7 linked regions of the Homo sapiens genome follow. The protein of the gene in region 3 purifies or fractionates together with the protein of the main gene of each other region. This does not show direct contact. Each region holds a gene or a part of one and is shown on either strand. Other genes may lie near its edges. The genes, in order: ITIH2, ATP12A, HS3ST4, DCP1B, INTS7, CLTCL1 and IPO13.

Region 1 (3,500 bases), on a different chromosome or scaffold from region 3:
CCTCTTCCTTCTCTTTCTCTTTTCCACTCTCTATCCAATATTTCCTTGAAAAACTGTCTCAAAACTCACCTCTTTGAAAAACAGAATCTCTATATAACCTCTTCTTTCAAGGATCAGTCACATTCTTTTTGCTCTTCCACATGTTTTATTATAATATCTTGTCATTGTCCACATATGACTATTGATTCAATATATACATATTATTTCTAATTATATGGTAATTGCTTGAGAGCAGCTATCCATCTTATGTTTTCCAGCTCAGAGCTCAATATAGGCTTACTTAGTGATAAGTGAGATGTACAGATGCAATACTAAAGACCAAACAAGGAAATGATTTAACTTACCCATCAATCCATCCATCCATTCAACCAAGTTGAACAACCAACTAACCAGTCATAGGGCAACTATTTTTGACCACCCAAGAGTTCACTACTACCCTAAGATCTGTAAGGAACCTAAAAGAAGTCCCTGTCAGCCAGGCACAGTGGCTCACGCCTGTAATCCCAGTACTTTGGGAGGCCAAGGCAGGTGGATCACCTGAGGTTGGGAGTTTGAGACCAGCCTGACCAACATGGAGAAACCCTGTCTCTACTAAAAATACAAAATTAGCCAGGCGTGGTGGTGCATGCCTGTAATCCCAGCTACTCGGGAGGCTGAGGCAGGAGAATTGCTTGAACCCAGGAAGCGGGAGTTGCAGCGAGCAGAGATCGCGCCATTGCACTCCAGCCTGGGCAACAAGAGCGAAACTCCATCTCAAAAAAAAAAAAAAAAAGAAGAGGAAGAAGACGAAGACGAAGAAGAGGAAAAAGAAGACCCTGTCTTTCACAGACCCTGCCTGCCTGGGTCTGTACTCCCAGGCAGGGTTTCTCAGCAGTGGGACTATTGATATTTTGGATGGGGTCATTCCTTGTTGTAGGAGGGCTGTCTGGTGCATTGCAGGATACTTAGCAGCATGGTCTATGGTCTATTTGCTAAATTTTGGTAGCACAACCTCCCCTGCATCATAACAATCAAATATAACGTCAGACATTGCCAAATGTCCGCTGGGGGGAATAATTGCCTCTGGTTGAGAAACATTGCTCTAATACAACAGTTTATTCACTGCTTCCTTCCTTCCATCACTCATTCATTTAACAAATATTTACGAAGCACCTACTATGTGTCATACACTTAGTTCATCTATGAGCAAAACAGACCCAAAGCATAAAAACAGAAACCAAACAAAAAACAGAAAAAAAACGGATGCCTACCCTCTGTGTGCTTATGAAACTTACATCTGAGGGATAGGGGACAGAGAATAAACAATACACATGCAAGTACAAATGTACAAGTACGTTCAATGGCAGCATTTTGATAAAAGTTTTTTTAAAAAATAAAAGAAGCATATGTTAAAAACCAAGAGTGGCAATTGCAGGGGTATGCAATTTTAAATAGGCTTGTCATCTAAATAGGTGGTTTCCTGGAGAAGACCTCTGAGGAGACCCTGAGAAGGTGAAGGGAGAGTTGTGCAGATATCTAAGGGAATTAAATGCAATGAACAGCTCATGCAACAGTTCTAAGTCGAAAGTGTGCAAAGAACAGAGAGAGATGCCAGTAGAGAGGGGCAGTGGGAGATGAGATCTGAGAAGTGAGAGGCAAGGTGGCTCATGGAACACCTGTGCAGTCATGATCAGAGCTGGATTCTGGAATCTGTTTTGAAGGTAGAGTAAACAGTATATCCTGAAGGGCTAGCTGTGAGGCAAGGGAAGAAAAGAGAAGTGAAAGATGCCCCAGGACTTAGCCTGAGTGACTAGAAGGATGAAGTGGCCATCCATGAGTTGACAAAGACAGAAATGTAATCAGACATTGCAGGGAATGTCCCAGTTTGGTTTTGGATGCAAAGTCTGAGATTTCTATTAAGTACCCACGTTGGCCATGGAAGCGTGGTGTTCAAAAGTGAGATGTGGAGACACACAGTTAGGACTCCCCAGCATATAGAAGGTACTGTCAGCATTGGGACTAGGTGAGAATGCCGAGGAGTAGATGGACAAGGGAGCCAAGATCAGACAACAGAGCATTCCAATATTGGGAATTTGGGAAGAAGAGGATAATTGGTGATAGAGACTAATAAAAACAATTAGTAAGTGGGGGAGAAAAATCAAGAGAGAATGAGGCCCTGGAAGACAATTGAGGAATTTGTGTTCAGGAGGGAGATGAGAGCACTTGCCGGTGCATGAGAAATGAAGATGGACCTTTGGATTTAGTGACATTAGCATCATTGGTGACCTTGACAAGGGCAGTTTCAGTAGAGTGACAGGGATGAAAACCCGAAAGGATTGGGCTTATGAGAGAATAGGAAGAGAAGATTTGGAGACAGTGTGTTTAGACAATTCCTCAAGGAATTTTATTGCAGAAGAAAGCTGAGAAATGAAGAAAGTGGATGCACATGAGGTTTGTAGAAGGGTGAGAAATAACATGTTTTTGTTGATGGAAATGTACCAATAGAATAGGGAAATTGAAGAGGCAAAGGACAATTGCTGGAGCCATGATCTTTAGTCAAAGAGAGGGAATGAAATAGTTCATGAATAGATGGGTTTGCATTAGGTAGAAATACTGCTAGTTGTTCTTTATTATCAGGTAGGAAAGAAAAATGTATGGGTACAAATATTGATGGTTGGGATTTTATGGTAGTGGGAGTCTGTGGGAATGTTCTTCTGTCTGCTGCAGTTTCTCAGTGGAGTTGGAATCAAAATCATCACACGTAAGCTAGAGAAAGAGGGTGATGGTGGTGGTTTAAAGAGAAAGATGAGGAAATAGTTTAAGAGACTGGGTGAGTAGATGGACTTGAGAAATGTATTTTATTTTCAGGCATCATAAAGGTGGCACTCGAAGTTTGTGATCCTTAACATAAAGACTAGTCAAACTGGTTGTGCATAGCAAAATAGATAGTAAAATTATCAAAAAGCCAACAGTACATGCCCAGAATAAATAAGGGGCAGGTCTGCATTGACTGAGGTGGGCTCAAGAGGTTTTCTGGAAGAAGTTTAGCTTGAGAAGAACTTGAAAGATGACCAGGATCAATGATTGGTCTTCCTAGTTCCTCTGAGGCTCAGATTTTCTGTAATGGGACCTGTCTTTATTCTCTATTGAAATAGACTGTGGAAGCAATGAAGACCATATTGGATGACCTCAGAGCAGAAGACCATTTCTCTGTGATTGATTTCAACCAGAACATTCGAACTTGGAGAAATGATTTAATTTCAGCTACAAAAACACAGGTTGCAGATGCCAAGAGGTATATTGAGAAAATCCAGCCCAGTGGAGGTGAGTGTGTTGGGCTAAATCCCAAGGAGACACTTCCTCTGGGTTCAAATCATGATTCACTTAAGAAGCATTATTCCCATCACAGTGGTCTTTCCCCAGCATTCGAGGGCCTATCTTAAATAATACATTTATTGGTAATGGATGAATGCTAAGTTTGTAGTGAAAGTAGAATTTGTAATACAGCCCACATAAGCTTT
Region 2 (3,500 bases), on a different chromosome or scaffold from region 3:
CACCCCAGCCCATCACCCGACCGGCTCTCCTCCTCCTGCTGCTGTGACATGACTAGCGAGATGAGGGGCTCAATAAAAATCCCCGCAAGTCCTGCTGGTTGTGTCTCTCTGCAATTTCTTTCTTTCTTTCCTTCCTTCCTTCCTTCTTTCTTTCTTTCCTTCTTTTCTTTCGACAGAGTCTCGCTCTGTCGCCCAGGCTGGAGGGCAGTGGCGCGATCTCCGCTCACTGCAAGCTCCGCCTCCCAGGTTCACGCCATTCTCCTGCCTCAGCCTCCCGAGTAGCTGGGACTACAGGCGCCCGCCACCGTGCCCGACTAATTTTTGTATTTTTAGTAGAGACGGGGTTTCACCGTGTTAGCCAGGATGGTCTCGATCTCCTGACCTCGTGATCCGCCCGTCTTGGCCTCCTAAAGTGCTGGGATTACAGGCGTGAGCCACCACGCCCGGCCCTTTTTTTTTTTTTTTTTGAGATGGAGTTTTGCTCTTGTTGCCCAGGCTGGAGTGCAATGGCATGATCTTGGCTCACCGCAACCTCTGCCTCCTGGGTTTCAGAGATTCTCCTGCCTCAGCCTCCTGAGTAGCTGAGATTACAGGCATGTGCCACCACGCCCTGCCAATTGTTTGTATTTTTAGTAGAAACGGGGTTTCACTATGTTGGTCAGGCTGGTCTCAAACTCCCGACCTCAGGTGATCTGCCCACCTCAGTCTCCCAAAGTGCTGGGATTACAGGCCTGAGCCACCACGTCTGGCCCCTGTAATGTCTTTCGACATTATTTCAGATCCTCATTTCACAGTCCTGGGCTGTTGTTCCATTCTTCTAGACCCTTCCATTTCTCACTTTAAAAAAAGAATCTTCTATGAGAACTGCCTTTTGAAAACCAATGAAAGCACCTCCATGTGTGGAAACCATGTCCCTTCTGCCTCTAAGACAGCTCCTACTCATTAGTTTAATGTGAATACTTTGACAGCTTCACCCAGATGACCTTCCTGGCTTCATTCCTGCTGCACCTGTCCCCTCTCCACACATACTAGCTTCCGGCAAGCCCAGATTCTCTCCAAGCAGGCTCTGTGCTTACTGGCCCTGGGGTCCCCCACCAGCTTAAATCCGAAGCATTTTGAGTCCCAGCGCAAACATGGCAGCAGCCCGAGAGCTGGCTCTGGCCCCTTCCATCAGAATCCACCTTTGTCCCAGCATAGCGTTTCTACTTCTTGTAGCCATCCCAGGGGGATAGAGTGAATCTCAGGACACTTCCATACACATTTGCCTCCCCTACCCGGCCACTTTCTCCTTGAGGCCAGGGGTCATCTGTCCCTCTTGGTCCCTCTCACTGCCAGGCCAGTGTGAGCCCCACAGTAGGTTTTTCTGTTGACTTGAACTGTGTCCAGATGCAAATAACTGCAGTCTCAAAGGCGCTGCAGGGGCCCCTCCTCCTAAAGGTGCCGCTACTCTTCCACACAGCCCCCCGCCACACACAGCCTTCCCTCTGTAGAGTTGGGAGGCTTCTCTTCCAAATCCCTGGTTCCCACGACTCACCATAATGATGTCTGTGCCATATTTCTCTTCCAATTCCCTATTGCTGAGTTTGTGGTCATCCTGAAGTCCATGAAAGGAAGAACAGAGTGAATTAGATAATTCCAAAAGACTCAAGCCCCAAGCTTTGACCAGCCATGGAAGCTGGGAGTAGCAGCCCTGAGGATGGGAGGGGATCGAGGAGTGTGGGGGACAGGAGAGAAAGAACCCCTGTGCCAGGCAGCTGCCCAGCGAAGGATGGCACTGCCTCAGGAGTGACTGTCCCTGAGTCGGCACAATCCTGCACTTGCTGTTACTACCCAGAAGCTGCCTGCAGCTTTTCTGAACAAAGCCATGCACCTCGCTTCAATCTGAACTCCAGGGCATACAGGTTCTGGCACCCTCATCTTCCAGGTGCCAGTGAGCTGGAGGCTTCCCTCAGGCCTGAACCCTGGGATTGGCTGGGGCTGATGGCAAAACCACACTAGAACCGCTTCCTGGGCTGGCACAACTCCTCCTCCTTCGCTGTGTGGGCTCTGGCAGGGAAAAGCAGCTTCCCTCACTCAAGCTGTGACGCTCAGGGAGCTCACTGGGCAGAGAAACCCTGCAGGGAAAAGTTCTGCTGAATAAACCCACAGCATTGTGGCTGCCACTTGTGAATTCTGCTACAGAATCATTAGACTACAGCAGGGTTTCTCACCCGTGGCCCTGCTGCCATTCTGGGAGAATAATTCTTTGTTGTGGGCTCCACCCACTAACATCCTCCCCTCAGTTGTGGTAACCAAAAATGTTTCCATTTTTCCCCTGGGAGAGGGGTGGGGGAATCCTCTTCTCCTCTCCCTTTGAGAACCACTGGGCTAAAGGACAAGAAGTCTCTTCCTGTAGCAGAAAACCTAGGGTAAGTCTTCCTCACTCCCCCTAGAAAGTCCAGCACTCAGGATTTTTTAAACCCTGATTGTCTGAAACAAAGATTGATACTGTTGACTGGTGCTCACATCATCTCTTTTCTTAAGTATATGCAAAAAATAGTTCCATGTTGCAGTAAGAGACTAGGCCTTCCAATAAAGCAGAATTCATTATTATCATTATTATCTTGCTTCTAGCCCTCTTCTCAGCCAGATTCTGTTTTGCTCCTTCATCCCTTCTACTAATACTGATTGAGTGTGATATTGCTGGGGATTCAGAAGATTAAGGCTGTGTTCTGCACAGAGCACAGCACAACCCACTAAGTTTTGGGCAGATACAAGTAGTGGATGATCCGAGCCATTGTTTGCATGCATGGGACCTCAGACTTCCTGGGCTGGGGGATGAGAGCATGGGGGAGGGGTGGGACGAGGTGGTGGTGGTTATCTGGGGTGCCCTCTGCTGGCCAGCACTGGACTAGCACAGGGCAGCACCCCACCCACCCCTCGGGTCACTGCCTGGCCCTTTCATTCAAAGGCCGGGATACTTCAGTTGTCATTAGGCACTAATTTGCCAAGAAAGGTTGGGAGGCAAAAGCATTCAATATGCTGCTGAAAATTACAGGACCCTTGTAATGTCAAGGGAAAAACAGATATGTCTTCAATCTTAAATGCTAGAGATAATGGGAAATAATAAGAACGATCTATCGTCTGGTGCTGTGCTGTCTTTTCCCTGTTTTATCTCATTTAATCTTCCTAGTAACCCTTAAGAGGTAGAAAAAAAAATCTTATGTTTTTCAAAATAGGAAACTGAACTTCAGTTACACTGGGATTTGAATTGAGGTCAGTCCAGTTTCAGGGAAGCGTTCTTAAATGTCTCTCATGATAGATACGGACAAATGCCCAGTGGTATACTGTTAAATGTTTAACAAACTCTCCAGGAACGATCAATACAAAGCTCGGATTTGTAGAGTTTGCTGATTTCTCACTAGAACCAAGTTTGAAGCTGCTAACAGGATGTCAGTCAGCCTGCCAAGTTTCTGAATACTTAACAAATGGCTCTCTAGCACAAAAGAGACTCCCCTCAG
Region 3 (4,025 bases):
TCTTATTTGATTAACATTTTTTTTCTCTTTGGCACTAGGTATCTCGTTAATATTTAGACATTATATACATTTTCTTTCAACTGGTTTTCCTATTACGTGATCAAACAAAACCAGAGATGCCAGCCACAGCAGCCAACAAGGGAAAAGCAGCCCCGTCAGGCACCCAGCTGTGGCTGGGGGGCAAATGGTACTCACTAGAGCCACCCCCAGGAGGCACCTGGCAGAGCTCTGTGCAGAGCCAGCCCCGGTTGCAGAAAGCTGAGTTTGTTGGAGTGCCTCAGTTGATCACTCTGTCTCTTTCTCCCATTTCCCTCACTTCCCTGAGCAAAATGCAACAGGAAGCAAAGTCTAGTTGTGAATCTTCCAAAGCCTTCTGATGTTTACCATGTTCCCCCAGGAGAGGGAGGTGAGGGGTGGAGATCTCTCTGCAAAGAAAATACACTTAAAAAATTTCAGCGAGCCGATGCACAGACACCCAGCAACCCAGCTTGTCTCCGCTTATTAGGTGTTCAGAGCGACAGTGGTCCCACACTATTTCAGTCCAGGAAACCATGAACTCCGTTAGTGGCAATGCCCCCGAAGAGGCGCAGGTGTGTGCACCTGTGATTAAGGGTGTCGAGGAGGGGCAGCCTCATCTCTTGAAGCAGAAAGTGTTGTCACCTGGTGATGGGACAGAGGGAAAAGCTCTGGGGCTGGGAAACCTGGGGGCTTGTGTCAAAGCTCCACCCATCAGGAGCTTCAAGAGAAGATGGGGGGCGGGGGGCGGTGGCTGGAAAGATGGAAGTTGGGATGGGAAAGCGGTTGTAGAAAAGGATTCACTCCTGGACCGAAGGCAGGAGGATATCCCGGGCGAGAGAAGGGAGGGTCGGGGATGGGCTGAGTTGGAGTCCCAGAGGAAAAGCGGAAGCGAGAGCTTCGTCACCCGCTGTCTTCCAGCTCCCGGTGCGCGGCACCGGAGGCAGGCGTTGGGCTTTACCTCTCTAAAAGTACTGGGGCAAAGGAATGGAGAACACGGCGTCCCGAGCTCCCAAGGGAGGGGAGTAAACGAGGTGGGGTGGGGAACACCCCAAGTGCGTGCGTGCTGGGGGCTGGGGGGCACGATCTCCGTTCTCCCGGGTGCCCCAGCCCTAGCGCACGCCTCCGCTCCCCCGCCCCCTTCGCAGGCGCGCGCGAGGCGCACCCCCCTTCCCTCGGCGGCGCCGGGCGCGCGCCCGGCCCCCTCCTCCTCCCCTCCGCGCCTCTCCTCTCTCCCGGCAGAAAGTTAGCAGCGGGGAAGGAACTCCGGGCTGCAACAGCGCGCGGCGGCGGCGGCAGAGGCTGAAGCAGAAGCCGCGGCGGAGCCGGGGAAGCGGGGGCGCTGCAGACGGAGCAGGTGCCGCCGGCGGGTCCGCGCGCCCCCCTCGGTCCCCTTGCCTGAGGCTGAGGGGGGGGCGGTGGTGGGGGGGCCACCCGGACTCGGCGGGCAGCGTGGGGCGGGGGGCCATGCGGCCGGGCTCCCCCCTGGCGCAGCGGGACAGCGGCCAGGGCCGGGGGCGCAGCGGCGTCGCTTCATGCAGCCGGGGCGGCTGGGCAGCGGCGGCGGCGGCGGCGGCGGCGGCGGCGGCGGGGGCGGCGGCTGAAACCATGTCCGGGCAGCGCCGGGGGCTGCCGCCGCCGCCGCCGCCGCCGCGAGCCGGGAGCCGCGATGGCCCGGTGGCCCGCACCTCCTCCGCCTCCGCCTCCGCCTCCACCTCTGGCCGCGCCGCCGCCGCCCGGCGCCTCTGCTAAGGGGCCGCCGGCGCGCAAGCTGCTTTTTATGTGCACCTTGTCCCTGTCTGTCACCTACCTGTGCTACAGCCTCCTGGGCGGCTCGGGCTCCCTGCAATTCCCTCTGGCGCTGCAGGAGTCGCCGGGCGCCGCCGCCGAGCCCCCGCCGAGCCCGCCGCCACCCTCTCTGCTGCCTACCCCCGTGCGCCTCGGCGCCCCCTCGCAGCCGCCCGCGCCGCCGCCGCTGGACAACGCGAGCCACGGGGAGCCGCCCGAGCCCCCAGAGCAGCCAGCCGCCCCCGGGACCGACGGCTGGGGGCTGCCGAGCGGCGGCGGAGGCGCCCAGGACGCCTGGCTCCGGACCCCGCTGGCCCCCAGCGAGATGATCACGGCTCAGAGCGCGCTGCCGGAGAGGGAAGCGCAGGAGTCCAGCACCACCGACGAGGATCTCGCAGGCCGGAGAGCGGCCAACGGGAGCAGCGAGAGGGGCGGCGCCGTCAGCACCCCCGACTATGGGGAGAAGAAGCTGCCACAGGCGCTCATCATCGGGGTCAAGAAAGGAGGGACCCGCGCGCTGCTGGAGGCGATCCGCGTGCACCCGGACGTGCGGGCGGTGGGCGTAGAGCCGCACTTCTTCGACAGGAACTACGAAAAGGGGTTGGAGTGGTACAGGTAGGACCCTGGGCTCCGCGGGCTGGTGGAGACGCGTGGGGGAGACGCGGAGGGGAAGCCGCGGCTTTCCACGCCCTTCGAGCATCCAGGCACCGTCCCGAGAGGCCCAAGCCCCCGCGAGGGCTCTGCAAACCCTGGCGGCGTTGCTCAGGGGGATCGGCTGAGAGGGCTGGACTCCAGCGAAAGGTCACTTTATTTCAGGGCGAGGGGAGGAGGTGTCACCCTGCCCTGCCTCCCGCGCTCCTCATCCAAGGAGGTGCTGTCTGAATCTGCCCAGCTCCAAGCCTGGGAACCCCCAGCCCTCCTGCCTGCTGGGTGTTTCCGAAACCAGGCTCTTGCGGGGTTCTGGGATTCTGGGCAGAGGACTTTGAGGAGTGAGACAGGATGGCTAAATTGACTAAGGGGATTTGAGGTCCCCTGGAATCTCTTAAAATCACCCTCAAACGCATTTGCGTGGCTGGAATTCAACTTTAGTGTGTTAAGGTCAGAGCAAAATGAATAGGGAACAGTTACAAAGATCATGCTGGCGTTTTGGCTTTCTAGTAAAGAAAGGATGCCTCCCACCTCCGTAACTTTCCATCCCCCTTGGCTGAATGAGCACGGAGTTGATTTTGCACCAGAAGCCTCAATGTCTGCATGACAGTTGGTGCCCTGAGAGTTTTTATGCCTCAGACCGTGCCCTGTCTAATCTCCGCCTCCTTCGCAACAGATTGGAGCTTCTGTCTTGTGAGATGTTCATCTCCCTCCTTTCCCACCGTCTGCCGGTGGTGAGAGAAAGGTAGGAGAGAGGACTAGAAAGTTAAGTGCAGGTAAAATAAATTAATAATCCAGCTTTCCTGCCAGCCATAACATTTTAAACGGCACTGGTGCAGATGCCCCAAACGCAAACCTCCTTCGCCTTTGTTGTTTCTCTTTCTCTCTTTCCTCCTGTTTTATATCTTTCTGGGAAACAGATCTGCATGGCTGGCTGCATCTCCATTGCATTTCGGTAATTAATTGCAAATGTCAAACAGAAACACAGCCTTTGTCAGCTGAAGTGATGTTATCATCTTAGCAGAGCCAATAGGTAAAATCAAGATTGTTTCTCTGACAGGTTGCCTGCCCGTTGAGGAGATGTGCTTTCTAGGTTTAAATTACAGCCTGGGAAAGTTTTAGAAATAACTTAACTGAAGAAATACATAATAAATGTGTGCATTATGATTGATTTCTTCCACTTTTAAAAATATGCCTTATGCTTTAAAAGCTTGAGAGAAGTACACTTAGTCATAAACATTCCAGCACATTACAGGGAAGCAGCAAATGTGTCTGTTAACGTCTTGTCTGTTTCAACAGAGAGAACTAATTGCAGTATTTTAGGAGGCTTCAAACAGCCCCTTCCTATCAAAACATAAAACAGCAAATGCCTAATTTAACTGGAAAATCAGTATTTATAACATCAGAAGCCATGGCTTCCAGTTTGTGATTATAATTAAAAAGGTGTTAGGATGATTAATGCAGCAACAGCAAAATAAAGAAGGGGCACGATGTCTGGGAAGGTTTTAGTTGTTTAATTGCTGGTTGTAGGAATGTTCTGGTTTCTTCTGTGGAGTAGCTTTGGCCTTATGAGG
Region 4 (3,500 bases), on a different chromosome or scaffold from region 3:
TTTTTTAGTATTTTGAATTCTGAATTGCTTATTTCTTTAGCACTTGTTAGATTTTATAATACAGTATAATATTAAATCCTCAAATTGTACTTTTAAAATTTAAGCTAAAATACCCCAGGACTGGTAACTAATACTTTCACATAAAAGTCCTCCTTAAAGGATCTAAGGAACATCTAATCTTGTTTTAGCTATTCTCCACATCCCTAACCCTGGACTTTGCTCAGAAAGAAAAAAAAAATCTGGTTGCCCTTGGATAACTATGGAGGGGCCAGGAAAATGCGTGAATTTGGGCAGCTGTAATAGAACAGAAATGTATATTTTCAAAGTCTCTTTTATCCAGGTGTCATAGAGCGCCTGACGTTTTTTCATCAAAAGATCTGAGTAGTGTAAGCTGATTATCTCTCTTTTTTTTTTTTTTTTGAGACGAAGTCTCGCTCTTGTTCCCCAGGCTGGAGTGCAATGGCGTGACCATGGCTCACTGCAACCTCTGCCTCCTGGGTTCAAGCTATTCTCCTGCCTCAGCCTCCAGAGTATCCAGGATTACAGGCGCCTGCCACCACTCCTGGCTAATTTTTGCATTTTTAGTAGAGACGGGGTTTCACCATGTTGGCCAGGCTGGTCTTGAACTCCTGACCTCAGGTGATCCACCCGCCTCGGCCTCCCAAAGTGCTGGGGTTACAGGCGTGAGCCCCTGTGCCCGGCCTGGTTATCTCTTTTCAATGGAGAAACTGAGACATATAATAATAAACTAATTAGCCCAGCATGATCTGGCAAGAACCCCACTACAGGTCCCAGGTTGTGATTACTGAAACACAACTCCTTCCTATGAACAAACTCATATTCTTTGTGTGTAATGCTAAATAAAAATCTTAGTTTTAAGAATTACTTGTTATAAGTTAGAGATTAATTTTAGGAGAAGCATGCCTTTTACATTTTTGACCTTGGAATTTAAAAACTAAAATGTGGCATTAAAGGTTTTTTTTTTTTAATTAAGAAAAGAGAATTTCTGTTACATCAAGGAAGAAAGGAAACAAGTCAGAAGCTATTTAGTTTTATGTGTGCTGATATATATAGATATCCTTATTCAGATCTCTAAGATGAAACAGTCCAAGGTCAGATACTGGAAGACCAGGAGAGTGTTTTGATCTTGTGGGGAGTGATCCTGACTACATAGAGGTTCTGCAAAGTCCTAGTTCTATCACCTGTATCTTGGCTCAGTTTCCTAACAATGTAATGGATAATACCAAATACTTTCTACAAATTTATTTTTAAATGCTTTGTGGACTTGTGAATACTTGCTGACTGAATCAGTTAAACTTTAGGGACAGCCAAAAATTTGTATACTGTTCAGGTAGCATTTACTGTACTGTAGGGGCCATTTTCCTGATTAATACTTTGGTGGTTTGGGTGTAAGTAATTCTTAGTGCTTCAGGTACACTCAGGATATACATTTGTCAGCAGATAGGAATTAACCATGTTTGTTTTCAAAGAAAGATAAGTAATGTTTCTGTATATATATTTTTTCATTTTGACTTGGATATTTTTCAAAGTACAGGGGCAAACGAGCCACATTTCAGAAATAAGGATATGTTTCACAGTATGTTGTGGTGATTTATACAAACTTCATAGTGAATCTAGTTTAAGGATGAACTCCCTGACTTACCTATGCTTTTATGTTAGGGAAAAAACTGGCTAAAGTTGTTTTAATTGTTATTTATTTATTTATTTATAAGAAACAGGGTCTCCCTCTGTTGCCCAGGCTGGAATGCAGAGGTACAATCATAGCTCACTGTAGCCTCAAACTCCTGGGCTGAAGCAATCCTCCCTCCTCAGCCTCCTGAGTAGCTGAGACTACCGGCATGTGCCACCACACCTGGCTAATTAAAAAAATTTTTGTTTTGTAGAGGCAAGGTCTCACTATGTTGCCCAGGCTGGTCTCAAACTGAACTCCTGGCCACAAGCGATCCTCCTGCCTGCCTCAGCCTCCCAGAGTGCTGGGATTACAGACATGAGCCACTGTGCCTGGTCTAAATTCTTTATTTATAATTTCATATTCCATAATAATAAACATCTTGAGATTAAATATTTTGTTACTAGGTAATGATTTTTTATAGCCATTTACTCTTGATAATAGCTTGATATGATTTGTGCCATAATGGATTTTGTTTTCAGGACTTGTAATATAATTTCATGGGCAGAGAGTATGTTGTTGAACTAAGGCAGTGAGTGGCTCTCAAACTAGCATACATCAGAATCACCTGGACAGTTTAATAAAACCCAGATTGCTGAGCACCATCCCCAGAGTTTCTGATTCAGTAGGTTTGGGCAGGAGCCCAAGAGCTTGCATTTCTAATAAGTTCCCAGGTGACGCTGATGCCGCTGATCTGGGGATAACACTTTGAGACCCACTGAACTAAAGTGAATGAGAAATTTGCTGAAATTGCCTGAGCATGTGAAAGGATCATGCCTTGTGTGCCTTTTAAAAACTGCTGTTTTGACATTACGCTTTTTTTAAAAGGGCGTATTTTTCACCAGAATTACAGAGTACTTAAATTTTGAATGATTATGGTGATGAATATTAATAATAAAATATCAGGGGTTTAAATAGAATGCTGAAATTAAACCATGTAAATTGCAAAAGTACATTTTAAATTCTGAATTACAGTAGGTCTGGTTCGTGGTTAGTCAAACACCTGGATACTTACATGTGTGTTTTTTAGTATGCATTATATGGATGAATATTATAATGGCCTAGCTTCCTGCCTTTGGAGAAATGGAAAAGAAATGTGAAGTGACCTAGTTAAACCATCATTTTAACTTTACCACCTCTCCCAGATTTTCTCAGGCAGATTTCTTGAGTCCTAACTTGGTAATACTTGTGTAACTTTACTTCAGTGATCTCGGGTCAGACCTTGACTGTAAATATACTACACTAAGTAGGTGATTGATTCATCTGAGAACTCTGTGGCATCATTGCCCTCTCTGTCTAGCAGTCAAAGTAAAGTTATTGACAGATCATCTGCTCTCCTAAGTCACTGGATATGGCAGGAGAAAATGAACCCAGAAAACAAAATGAAGGATAGTGAAATGCAGACACCAGTGATGTCTGCAGCTTTCTCTATACCCAGTGTGGTGGAAGGAGAAAAAGGCAGCACTCTTCTTTCTAATTAAATCCGCATAGCACACTTATTTTCTCATTGTTTCAGCTAAGGGTATGCTGCTATCCCTGTATTTGGTAAAGAGAGATAATGATGATTTGTTTTATAAATGACAAAAGAAAGACTGCTTCCTGCTGCCTAATCTGCAGAGGCACAATGATGACATAGAACTTGCTTTCTCCTTTTCCTGAGAATAACTCCTCATGTTGGGTATATTTGGCCCATTGAAGTTATATATAATTCCTATTCTATGAGAATTTGTTTTATACCTTTGTGAATTGAAGAGAACATACATGTCTTGTGTGTTTTGTTTTTATTGTTTAGGAGAAAACTGATGTGGAA
Region 5 (3,500 bases), on a different chromosome or scaffold from region 3:
AAATTTGTGTTCACCATGACCACAAAGCCATGCCATAGAGAAAAGATTTGTTGGTTTCGCTCCACTGTTGACAGGAAAACGTGGATTAGGGTTAGTCTTCATGGATCCAGTCGTGTATGCAATAAAGAAAGGCATTTACTACACAAAGTTCAGAGGACTTCGAAACCATTCTACACACAGTTTATTCACATCCTGATTATGATTTAGTTGTTGAAGGAAATAATTAAAATCATAAGTATAATCAGACTGTAGCCATCAAGTGTGTGTGTTTGTGTATATATATGTATATGTGTATGTATAATTTTTTTACTATGACAATGAGAGGAAATAGGCAGCAAATATGACTTTGCTTTCTACTGTGCTTTTTAAAGGCAGTTTTTATTATCAGCATGTAGTTTTATAATCATTGAAAAGTTAATGTCAAGATAAATACTTAGGAAAAAATATTGAATTTATCAATTGGTTCTAGTATAATCTTTAATGTTATAAATATATTAGTATACTGTGTTTTTCAAGTGCAATTTTGCTAAATGAGTCACAGCTTTTAAATCTGGAATATTATTAAGGATGGTGATCACAAATACCTTGAGAATTATTTTTGTGTCTAGGTTTAGCGACACCAGTAGACTTGAAGCTAAAATTGATACCCATTCTACAGCACATGCACCATGATGCAATCTTGGCTTCCAGTGCTCGTCAGCTTTTACAACAGCTGGTCACATCCTATCCGTCCACCAAAATGGTGATTGTGTCTTTGCACACTTTCACTCTGCTTGCAGCGTCATCTTTGGTTGATACACCTAAGCAGGTAATTTCAATTTTCTTTAAACTGCCTATCTTTGGTAAACTTACATATTAAATATATGATTAGAAATAAGAAAGTGGCCCACAAGTCTTGAGGACATTAAGGTTCTTTTCTCTAATAAAGGTCAGATTAATTTGCTTTTGCTTGCTTTTTTATTCTCTCTGTTCACAGTACTGATTGTTGGGAGCCCTTGAGGAAAATGAGATGTTATGGAGTACATGGCTGGGTGTGAAGTTGGCCGTATAAAAAAAAAAAAAGAAAGGATTGAGTATCTGTAAAATGCCAGGGCCTGTGCTAAAACTTTAAAGTTAAATGGTAGTATTTTACAAACATGGAGAAAGAGGCCCAAATGTGGGCACATAGCTAGTGAGTGACAGGGCTCTGATTTGAAGTGAGTCCTGTCCCTTTATAAGTTTCACTAAACTACACTGCATTTCTAATGATCATTTCAGTTACAGTATTGTTTATGGAGTGACTTATTTCCTTTATAGATTCAGCTTCTGTTGCAGTATTTGAAGAATGATCCCAGGAAGGCAGTAAAGAGACTTGCTATTCAAGATCTGAAATTACTTGCTAATAAAACACCACATACTTGGAGTAGGGAGAATATTCAGGTATGTAGAACTTGTAACATTTTATATAGAAAAAATAATATAACATTATAATATAGTAAAATGTTTTGCATTTTTATATTGTCTTTGTCATCTTCTAAGTGGTTGAATATGAAAAACTTCTAAAAGCATTGTTGATGTTTGTGGCAGTTATTTTATAAGTGGCACAATAAATACATAAAACTTCTATACTTCAATGTTTGTTTTAGTCAGTGAAACTTGCCACTCAGTTGCTTGTTCATTCTCCCATAGTGGCACTAAGGCTAATTGAGAAGCCCAATTACATTGGTTTGGTTTTTTTATTCTTGTATTTTTCAGTCAATTTGGGGAGAAAAATTTAGGGGCTGAATGTTATCTGTAATGGAGGTAGGGCTGGATGGGCAACTTGGGAAATATATTTCTCTCTTCCTGGAGAGCTGAAGACATTCCTAAGTCTTCTTTTGTAAACAGAAGAGCAGATCTCACTCTTTAGACTTTTAATGTGCATCTTTGACACCATCTCTTACCATCTGTTAGGTTAAATTAATATTTTATGTTTATTTTTTTCTCAAAATAGAACCCTGTTTGTTTACCCATTACCGATAGAAATAACACCATTTTGCAAATAATGCTATTTAAAATGGAACGGTAGTTTTTATCTCTCAGCTTCATCATGACTCCAGTGGATTAAAAATCTTTGAATTTCAGATTATTAAAACTAAACTGCTGTGTTTGTTTTTCTGTTTGTTTGTTTGTTGTTTTCTAAACATCTTTTAATTTACTATATTATGATTTGATAGTCACAGATATCCCAAGATAAGGGCAGTTGTTAAATCTGCATTTAATAGATAAGCAGTTAGGGTTCAGAGAGACTTAATATGCTTAAGAGAGCATCTTAAGAGAAGTAAATTAAGAATTTAATTAAGAGAGCTTCTGTCCTCTGATCCCTAGTCTTATTGCTTTTTCTACTAAATAATGCTATCTTTCCAAGAAGAGAATGTGCCCAGCCACTTTAGTCATTTTAGAGAATTTGTACAAAGAACCAAACCCAGTTATTTAGAAAGATGAGTGAGAAGCACAGTATTATTCCTTCTCATTTTTTTCTTATTGTGAGATAGATCATACATACAGAAAAGTATGTAAAATATATAAATAGTTTAAATACCTTTAAGTGAGAAAAGTATGTAAAATGTATAAATATTTTAAATACTTTTAAGTGAAAACCCATGCAACTACCATCCAGCTAGAAATAGAACATTACAGGATCACAGAACCCTGCCTCCTTCCCTTGCGTGGTCCTTCCTGGTTGAAACTTTACACCTTCCAAAAGCAAACCACCATTTTGACTTTCATGATAATAATTTCTTTGCTCTTCTTTTACCTTCTTCACATGTCTTCCTAAAGAATACTGTTTAGCTTTGTTTTTGTTTCTTTTGCTCAGCATTACACTGGTGAGACTCATCCATGTCTTTCCCCTTTAATTGTAATGTACTATCCCATTGTATGAATGTATCACAGTTTATTTGCTCTCGATGGGTTATTTCCGCATGGGCCTATTGCAAACAGTGCAGAACATTCTTCTGTTTGTCTCCCAGTTCACACACGCAAATTTCTTTAGAGTGTATACCTGGGAATGAAATTTCTGACTTACAGAAAATGCGTATCTTCAGTTTTAACAGATGATGTCAAACTGTTTTCCAAAGTCAATGAACCAGTTTACATTCCTGCTGTGTATGAGGGCGTCCATTAATCACATCCGTACCAACACATAGAATTATCAGACTTACGTTTTTTACCAGTTTAGAAGTTGTACTTTTTATGTGTAGCTCCTTGATTATTAAAGAAATTGAACACCTTTTTAATATGTTTATTGACCATTTGGATTTTCTCTTATGACATGGCTATTCAGGTCTCTTGCCTATTTTTCTGTTGATTCATAGTTATTTTTTATATATTTGGAATACTCATACTTTGTTAGTCCTTGACAATTCTATATAAATTTCAGAATCAGCTTGTCAAATTTAACAGTTTGATTGGGATTACACTGAATATAAAGATTAGTTTGTAAGAAATTGGTAACTTTATAATATTGTCTTCCAGTGCAT
Region 6 (3,500 bases), on a different chromosome or scaffold from region 3:
TTGGGGATCGATGTTGGGTTAATACGGTGACATTCTGATTTCAACTCCAAATACCAAGAATTGGTAATCCTGAATAATTTGTATCCAATCTCTTGAGCATAGTGGGTTCTTAAATAATAGTAGCTGAGTCAAGTTCCTTATCTAAGAGCATACATACACATGTATGGCATTTGAAAAAGGTAAAAGTCCCTCACAAATAAGACAGTGTTTTAACAACTGAGAAGAGTGGATCCAAAAATAAGATAAAGACTATTAGAATCAGATTAAATTAAGACAGTAGTTCTCAACCAGGAGTGCTATTCTGCATTCTTCAGAAATGGGAAAGGGGCGGCCGGGCACGGTGGCTCACGCCTATAATCCTAGCACTTTGGGAGGTCGAGGTGGGCAGATCATAAGGTCAAGAGATGGAGACCATCCTGGCCAATATGGTGAAACCCCGTCTCTACTAAAAACACAAAAATTAGCCAGGCATGGTGGCGTGCACCTGTAGTCTCAGCTACTCGGGAGGCTGAGGCAGGAGAATTGCTTCAACCCAGGAGGCGGAGGCTGCAGTGAGCCAAGATCGCGCCACTGCACTCCAGCCTGGCGACAGAGCCAAGACTCCGTCTCAAAAAAAAAAAAAGAAATAGGCAATGGGTTCGGGCGCAGTGGGTCACGCTTGTAATCCCAGCACTTTGGGAGGCCAAGACGGGTGGATCACTTGAGATCAGGAGTTCAAGACCAGCCTGGCCAACATGGTGAAACCCCGTCTCCACTAAAAATACAAAAATTAGCTAGGCCTGGTGGCATGTGCCTGTAATCCCAGCTACTCAGGAGGCCGAGGCAGGAGAACCCAGGAGGTGGAGGCTGCAGCAAGCCAGGATCACTCCACTGCACTCCAGCCTGGGCGACAGAGCGAGACTCTGTCTCAAAAAAAAAAAAAGAAAAAGAAAAAGAAAAAAAGAAATGGGCAAGGGTAGTTTTAATAGTACAATGAGTGGGGAACTCATTCTCTACTCATTTAGCCAGGAATGCTCAATACAGGACAATCCCACAAAAATAACTTTTCCATCTAAGATGCCAGATACTACTGTGAGTTTTTCTCCATACGCAGGAACTAAGTCCCAGAAAAGTGATGTGCTGAAAAGCCAGGTTTTTTCTTTCTTTCTTTCCTTTTTTTTTTTTTTTTAGACAGAGTCTTACTCTGTCACCCAGGCTGGAGTGCAGTGGTGGCACCATCTCGGCTCATTGCAACCTCTGCCTCCCCAGTTCAAGTGATTCTCCAGCCTCAGCCTCCCAAGTAGCTGGGACTACAAGTGCCCACTACCACGCCTGGCTAATTTTCATATTTTCAGTAGAGACGGGGTTTCACCACATTGGCCAGACTGGTCTCAAACTCCTGACTTCAAGTGATCCACCCGCCTCGGCCTCCCAAAGTGCTGGGATTATAGGCGTGAGCCACAGGGCCTGGCCCAGGTTTGTTTTTTTTTTCACTAGTTAGTAGAAATAACCAAGGATTCCTGATCCCTAGTATATTATTCTGATAGGTAACCTAGCTACACATTTTTAAAAAAATTTTCTTTCTTTTTTTCTTTCTTTTGAGACAGAGTCTTGCTCTGTCGCCAAGGCTGGAGTGCAGTGGTGCAATCTTGGCTTACTGCAAAGTCTGCCTCCCACACTCAACCGATTCTCATGCCTCAGCCTCCCAAGTAGCTGGGAATACAGGTGTCCGCCACTGCACCTGGCTAATTTTTGTATTTTTAGTAGAGACAGGGTTTTGCCATGTTGGCCAGGCTGGTCTTGAACTCCTGGTCTCAAGTGATCCACTTTCCTCGGCCTCCCAAAGTGCTGAGATTACAGGCATGCACCACTGCACTGGACCTTAGCTACACATTTTAAATGGCATATATAAGATTTAACTAAAGAAAGGTAAAGAAGATGCTGTCTAATGATCCTTTTCAGTTCTCAAAGCCTGCAATTAAATCAATCAAAATTCAAATCTGACAATGGGGGCCAGACATGGTGGCTCATGCCTGTAATCCCAGCACTTTGGGAGGCCGAGGCGGGTAGATCACTGGAGGTCAGGAATTCGAGACCAGCCTGGTCAACATGGTGAAGCCCTGTCTCTAGTAAAAATAAAAAACTTAGCTGAGCATGGTGGCACACGCCTGTGGTCCCAGCTACTCAGGAGGCTGAGGAACAAGAATCGCTTGAAACCAGGAGGCAGAGGCTGGAATGAGCCAAGATTGTGCCACTGCACTCCAGCCTGGGTGACAGAGACAGACCCTGTCTCAAAAAAAAAAAAAAAAAAAAATCTGACACTGGGGAATATGCAAAAAGAAATTACTCATCTGATAGTCCTGTGGTTTCTATGTATAAGGGGCTTAAGGAAGATGTCTGCCTGGGAGGACTACAACTGTGTTTGTACAAGAGTATTAGTGAGAACATCAACTGCCTACATCAGTGAAGCCAGAATGCTTAAGTTGCACTGAACATCCCCATGTTTTCACACCTATGTGGACACCAATATTTTTTCTTTCTGTATCTGTCTCCTTCCCAGTCTCACTCACTGCTTTATCCTTGTGCCTAGCATATGGATGGTAAACAAATAGTAAAACAAATTACTTGTTTCAGGGCAGTAAAATTTAGTTCATCTACAGTTTTTAAAACATACTTTGAGGGCCTGGCGTGGCTGCTCACGCCTGTAATACCAGCACTTTGGGAGGCCGAGGCGGGTGGATCACCTGAGGTCAGGAGTTGGAGACCAGCCTGGCCAACATAATGAAACCCCATCTCTATAAAAATACAAAAATCAGCTGGGTGTGGTGGCGGGCACCTATAATCCCAGCTACCTGGGAGGCTGAAACAGGAGAATCACTTGAACACGGGAAGCGGAGGCTGCAGTGAGCCAAGACCACGCCATTGCATTCCAGCCTGGGCAACAAGAGTGAAACTCTGTTTCAAAAAAATAAATGGGCTGGGTGCAGTGGCTCACACCTGTAATCCCAGCACTTTGGGAGGCTGAGGTGGGCGGATCACGAGGTCAAGAGATTAAGACCATCCTGGCCAACATGGTGAAACCCCATCTCTACTAAAAATACAAAAATTAGCCAGGCATGGTGGCACGCACCTGTAGTCCGAGCTACTCAGGAGGCTGAAGCCAGGAGAATCGCTTGAACCGGGGAGGCAGAGGCTGCAGTGAGCTGAGATCATGCCACTGCACTCCAGCCTGGTGGACAGAGCGAGACTCTGTCTCAAGAAAATAAAATAAAAAACACATTTTATATTTGAAACACGCTGGGCGCGGTGGCTCACGCCTGTAATCCCAGCACTTTGGGAGGCCGAGGCAGGCGGATCACAAGGTCAGGAGATCGAGACCATCCTTGCTAACACGGTGAAACCCTGTCTCTACTAAAAATATAAAAAATTAGCTGGACGTGGTGGTGGGTGCCTGTAGTCCCAGCTACTCGGGAGGCTGAGGCAGGAGAATGGCGTGAACCCTGGAGGCAGAGGTTGCAGTG
Region 7 (3,500 bases), on a different chromosome or scaffold from region 3:
CCCCATAGAGATAAGGAATCTTTTGGGAAGACATTTAGAACTCCCCAATATCATGAGAAGTGCTTAACGTAAGGACTCTAATATTAGGGTCGAGTGACAGTCAGGCATCTGTTTTAGCACCAAAGACCTGCCTTTGGTCCCTTTTCAATTCAGGTTTTTGTTGCTGTTGCTGCTCCCTGAGAGGAAATGTTAGAGATGTAAGTCGCAGGAGTTAAGTTCCACAGTTACATCCTGTGCCCCTCAGTGAAGGGCCTTTGCCCCCTGCCTTTCAGGGTGAGGGTCAGACTTGCTTACCTTCCTTGGTTTGCAGGGCCAGGCAAGGCTTATAGGTAAGGGCCCAATCGTAGGCCCCCTCTGTGCAGGGCTTCAGCGCTGTTCCAGCCAGTCATGACCTGCTGACCAGGGCCCCTTTGCTTTCTTCCCAAGGCGGTGTGCGCTATCTTTGAGAAGTCTGTTAAGACGCTGCTGGATGACTTTGCCCCCATGGTGCCACAGCTGTGTGAGATGCTGGGTCGGATGTACAGCACCATCCCCCAGGCCTCTGCTCTTGACCTCACTCGACAGGTGGGCCTTCTGGTTGGGGCAGAGATCCTGACCCTGGGTGGGGGTGGGTCAGATGGCTGCCGTGGCTGGGGTCCCCACTTGCATTCCAGGGATATTGCCATGTCCTGGTGAGACTGGGTCTCAGCTGACCAGCATTCCCTGCTTTCTCGTAGCTGGTCCACATCTTTGCTCATGAGCCTGCCCACTTTCCCCCAATTGAGGCCCTCTTCCTGCTCGTCACCTCCGTCACACTCACTCTCTTCCAGCAAGGTAGGTCCTGACCGGGGTCTCTGCTGCTGCTGCCACTGCCACTGCCTCTGCTTCCCCAAATGGGGAGCCAAAGCTGCCCACTCTGTTCTTCTCTGTCCCCTGAGTCACACGTGGGACTTGATGGGAAACCTGTGAGATCAAGCACAACACCTTATAAATAGTTGAAACTTTAGGTTGAAGTGGATAAGAGGGTGAATGATGTCTTCTGCTGGCCTGCTGGGCTCAGGGCCAGTCTGGATATGGAAGAAGGAAGTGGGGGTGGGAGGTGGGCAGAGGCTCTGAGGGGCTTGGGGCACTAGGCTGGCTCCTTTACTTTGGGATATAATGAAAAGTGGAAAGAGCACGGGCTTTTGAAGTCAGCTAGACCTAGATTCTAAGTTCATCACCACCAACTAGTTGTGTGTCCTTGGGCAAGTCACTTACCTTTGCTGGGCCTTCATTTCCATATCTGTGAAACGGAGATAACATATACTTGAAATGATTGTTTACAGGTATTAAAGTCACATCTTCTGGGCCCTTGGCTCAGGGGCTTTTGCACAGTGAAGTACTCAGAGACTGTTGGTTCCTTTCCCTGCATCAAGGCTTAGTACTTTCTAGGCCAGAAGTCAAGTACCTTTGGCTGTGGTCCTAGCCCTCTACTCACTGTGGCCCTTTGCCTGAGAGAGTTGGCAGCAGGGGCTTCATTCAGGCTTCTCGTGTTGTCTAATCCAGGCTTCCAGTTTGGAGAAACAAAAACAAAAAAACAGCACTGCTCAGCTAGCCTCATGAGCCTTGCCTGGATTCATGGTCACAGGTTTGAGGCTCACCAGGGGTCTCGGTTGGTGCCCAGAGTACTCGCAGCTCATATCCTCAGTGCCTGGTCTCATGATCCTGGCCTCTGTTTCTGTGGGCCATGGAGTAGGTCCAAACTGGGGAGAAAACTGAACCAGAAACCTGGTGTGGTCATCCTCAACTCCACCTCTCCCAACTCCCTGTACCCAATCTGGGACAAGCCCCATTGATCCTGACTCCTGATTCTCTCTCGGTTGGTCCACTTCTACCCACCTCCGTGGCCACTGCCTCAGTTTAGGGTCTCACCTGGATTATCAGCAACCTTCTAGTGGGTTTTCTTGGCATCTCCCCTTCTCTCCAATCTGTTCTGCACACTGCAGCTATAATCTTCATAAAAACACAAATCTGAGCATTTGTCATCCCGGGCTTAAAACCCTTTCATTGTTCCCATTGCCCTCAGCTTATTGTTCCATTCCCACCCACATGACAAGGCTCTGGCATGCCTCTAATGTCCTCTCCTGCCAATGTCCTCATGACTCCAACATTTCAGCCACACTGCCTCTTCCTTACCGTGTCCCATTTGATCCCTGTGCCTTGCTCCTCTGACTGGAATGTCCTATGCCCTTTACTGGGTGAACTCTCACTCCTTCATGCCTTAGAAAGGAGGAAGACTGCATCACTTCTCAGAGTAATTTCTCTCTGAGGCAGAATTGGGTGCTTCTAACTGTACTGAAACTGCATCCCATACACACTGCTGACACAGCACTGATCACACACAATAATCAGCTTTCATGTCTGTCTCTCTTACTAGACTTAAGCCCCTCAAGGGTAGGGTTGAGTTTCTTCTCTCTGCATCCCCAGTGCCCAGAATGAGGCCAGAATACAGCAGGCCACAGACACTGTTAAATAAAGGAGGGGGAGGGCTCCCTGCCCTTGGAACCTTTCCTTCTCATTTTCTGGCCCACCTCTAGCAGGGTGGCTGCTGAATATCAAACCTGCATGGTGCACACTGGGCCTCACTTTCTAGGACTTAAATAACTCAGGGTTCAGATACCAAAGGGACAGACTTTATTGGTGACTCTTCATAGCCTAGAGAAGGAAGCAGGGCAGAGATTATCTGCTTTACAGATGGGGAAACTGAGCATTTGTGGCTTGCGCAAGATCACACAGCTACTTAGTGGTGTCTTAGGCAGATGGTTTTGTACCACATCCTCCTGAGAGTGGAGAAGCCTGGGTAGGAGCTCCAGGTGCATGCCATATTCTTGCCTCAGGAATGATCAGAACTGGAGGCAGCAGTGTCCAACATCATATACGTTGGGCTTGTTGGTTGTCTCGCTGGACAGGATGGCTCCCATACCTGTTATGCCATCCCAATCTTAGCCATTCCTTCCTCGGGCTCTGCCTTCCCACTGGACCATAGGATGACATGTTTCTTGTTTCCCTGTTTCTTGGCATGTCCAGATGATGGGAACTAGTCCTCAGCCCTGAGCTTGGCTCTCTGCAGAGTCCATGTCCATGTGGAGGAGGTTTGCTGGGGTGGGGCTCTTGTTTTTGGCCTTATGATACTGTTTCCTCCTCTGGGCCCTGCCAGTGACTTGCCAGGCCATCTCCAGAGCATGCTGGGCACTGCCCTACCTAAGCAAGAGTCCTGTGGTTTAAGTGGACTGAATAGATTATTTTCCTTTGCCAGACCAAGAGCCCTAAGGCCATTGAAGTGAGGTGGCACTTACTCAGGCTCTGATGCCCTGGCCTTTCTAGGGCCCTCAGATAAACCTCAAAAGGAGATACCAAGGACTGACTCCCCCACCCCCCCACCGCCATCCCAGCTTTCCTCTTCAATGACTGGCTGATGGGAGGTATGTGCTAGGAGCAGTGTAGGGCTACCCCAACCTGCCAGAGGCCACAGTAAGTGTGGT

The links.
Region 1: the proteins of HS3ST4 (region 3) and ITIH2 purify together in Homo sapiens (affinity purification with mass spectrometry; one large-scale study listed by BioGRID and IntAct). This does not show direct contact.
Region 2: the proteins of HS3ST4 (region 3) and ATP12A purify together in Homo sapiens (affinity purification with mass spectrometry; one large-scale study listed by BioGRID and IntAct). This does not show direct contact.
Region 4: the proteins of HS3ST4 (region 3) and DCP1B purify together in Homo sapiens (affinity purification with mass spectrometry; one large-scale study listed by BioGRID and IntAct). This does not show direct contact.
Region 5: the proteins of HS3ST4 (region 3) and INTS7 purify together in Homo sapiens (affinity purification with mass spectrometry; one large-scale study listed by BioGRID and IntAct). This does not show direct contact.
Region 6: the proteins of HS3ST4 (region 3) and CLTCL1 purify together in Homo sapiens (affinity purification with mass spectrometry; one large-scale study listed by BioGRID and IntAct). This does not show direct contact.
Region 7: the proteins of HS3ST4 (region 3) and IPO13 purify together in Homo sapiens (affinity purification with mass spectrometry; one large-scale study listed by BioGRID and IntAct). This does not show direct contact.

The regions. Positions count from the first base shown.
Region 1 is NC_000010.11:7,723,816-7,727,315, forward strand, and holds part of ITIH2 (inter-alpha-trypsin inhibitor heavy chain H2 precursor), read left to right. Parts: intron 1-3,134; coding exon 3,135-3,303; intron 3,304-3,500. UniProt on the Homo sapiens protein: May act as a carrier of hyaluronan in serum or as a binding protein between hyaluronan and other matrix protein, including those on cell surfaces in tissues to regulate the localization, synthesis and degradation of hyaluronan which are essential to cells undergoing biological processes.
Region 2 is NC_000013.11:24,683,408-24,686,907, reverse strand, and holds part of ATP12A (potassium-transporting ATPase alpha chain 2), read right to left. Parts: intron 1,595-3,500; coding exon 1,535-1,594; intron 1-1,534. UniProt on the Homo sapiens protein: The catalytic subunit of a H(+)/K(+) ATPase and/or Na(+)/K(+) ATPase pump which transports K(+) ions in exchange for Na(+) and/or H(+) ions across the apical membrane of epithelial cells.
Region 3 is NC_000016.10:25,690,734-25,694,758, forward strand, and holds the start of HS3ST4 (heparan sulfate glucosamine 3-O-sulfotransferase 4), read left to right. Parts: upstream 1-1,225; 5' UTR 1,226-1,684; coding exon 1,685-2,418; intron 2,419-4,025.
Region 4 is NC_000012.12:1,997,958-2,001,457, reverse strand, and holds part of DCP1B (mRNA-decapping enzyme 1B), read left to right. Parts: intron 1-3,482; coding exon 3,483-3,500. UniProt on the Homo sapiens protein: May play a role in the degradation of mRNAs, both in normal mRNA turnover and in nonsense-mediated mRNA decay. May remove the 7-methyl guanine cap structure from mRNA molecules, yielding a 5'-phosphorylated mRNA fragment and 7m-GDP.
Region 5 is NC_000001.11:212,004,558-212,008,057, reverse strand, and holds part of INTS7 (integrator complex subunit 7), read left to right. Parts: intron 1-608; coding exon 609-808; intron 809-1,296; coding exon 1,297-1,419; intron 1,420-3,500. UniProt on the Homo sapiens protein: Component of the integrator complex, a multiprotein complex that terminates RNA polymerase II (Pol II) transcription in the promoter-proximal region of genes.
Region 6 is NC_000022.11:19,281,720-19,285,219, forward strand, and holds part of CLTCL1 (clathrin heavy chain 2), read right to left. Parts: intron 1-3,500. UniProt on the Homo sapiens protein: Clathrin is the major protein of the polyhedral coat of coated pits and vesicles. Two different adapter protein complexes link the clathrin lattice either to the plasma membrane or to the trans-Golgi network.
Region 7 is NC_000001.11:43,960,450-43,963,949, forward strand, and holds part of IPO13 (importin-13), read left to right. Parts: intron 1-426; coding exon 427-564; intron 565-716; coding exon 717-813; intron 814-3,500. UniProt on the Homo sapiens protein: Functions in nuclear protein import as nuclear transport receptor. Serves as receptor for nuclear localization signals (NLS) in cargo substrates.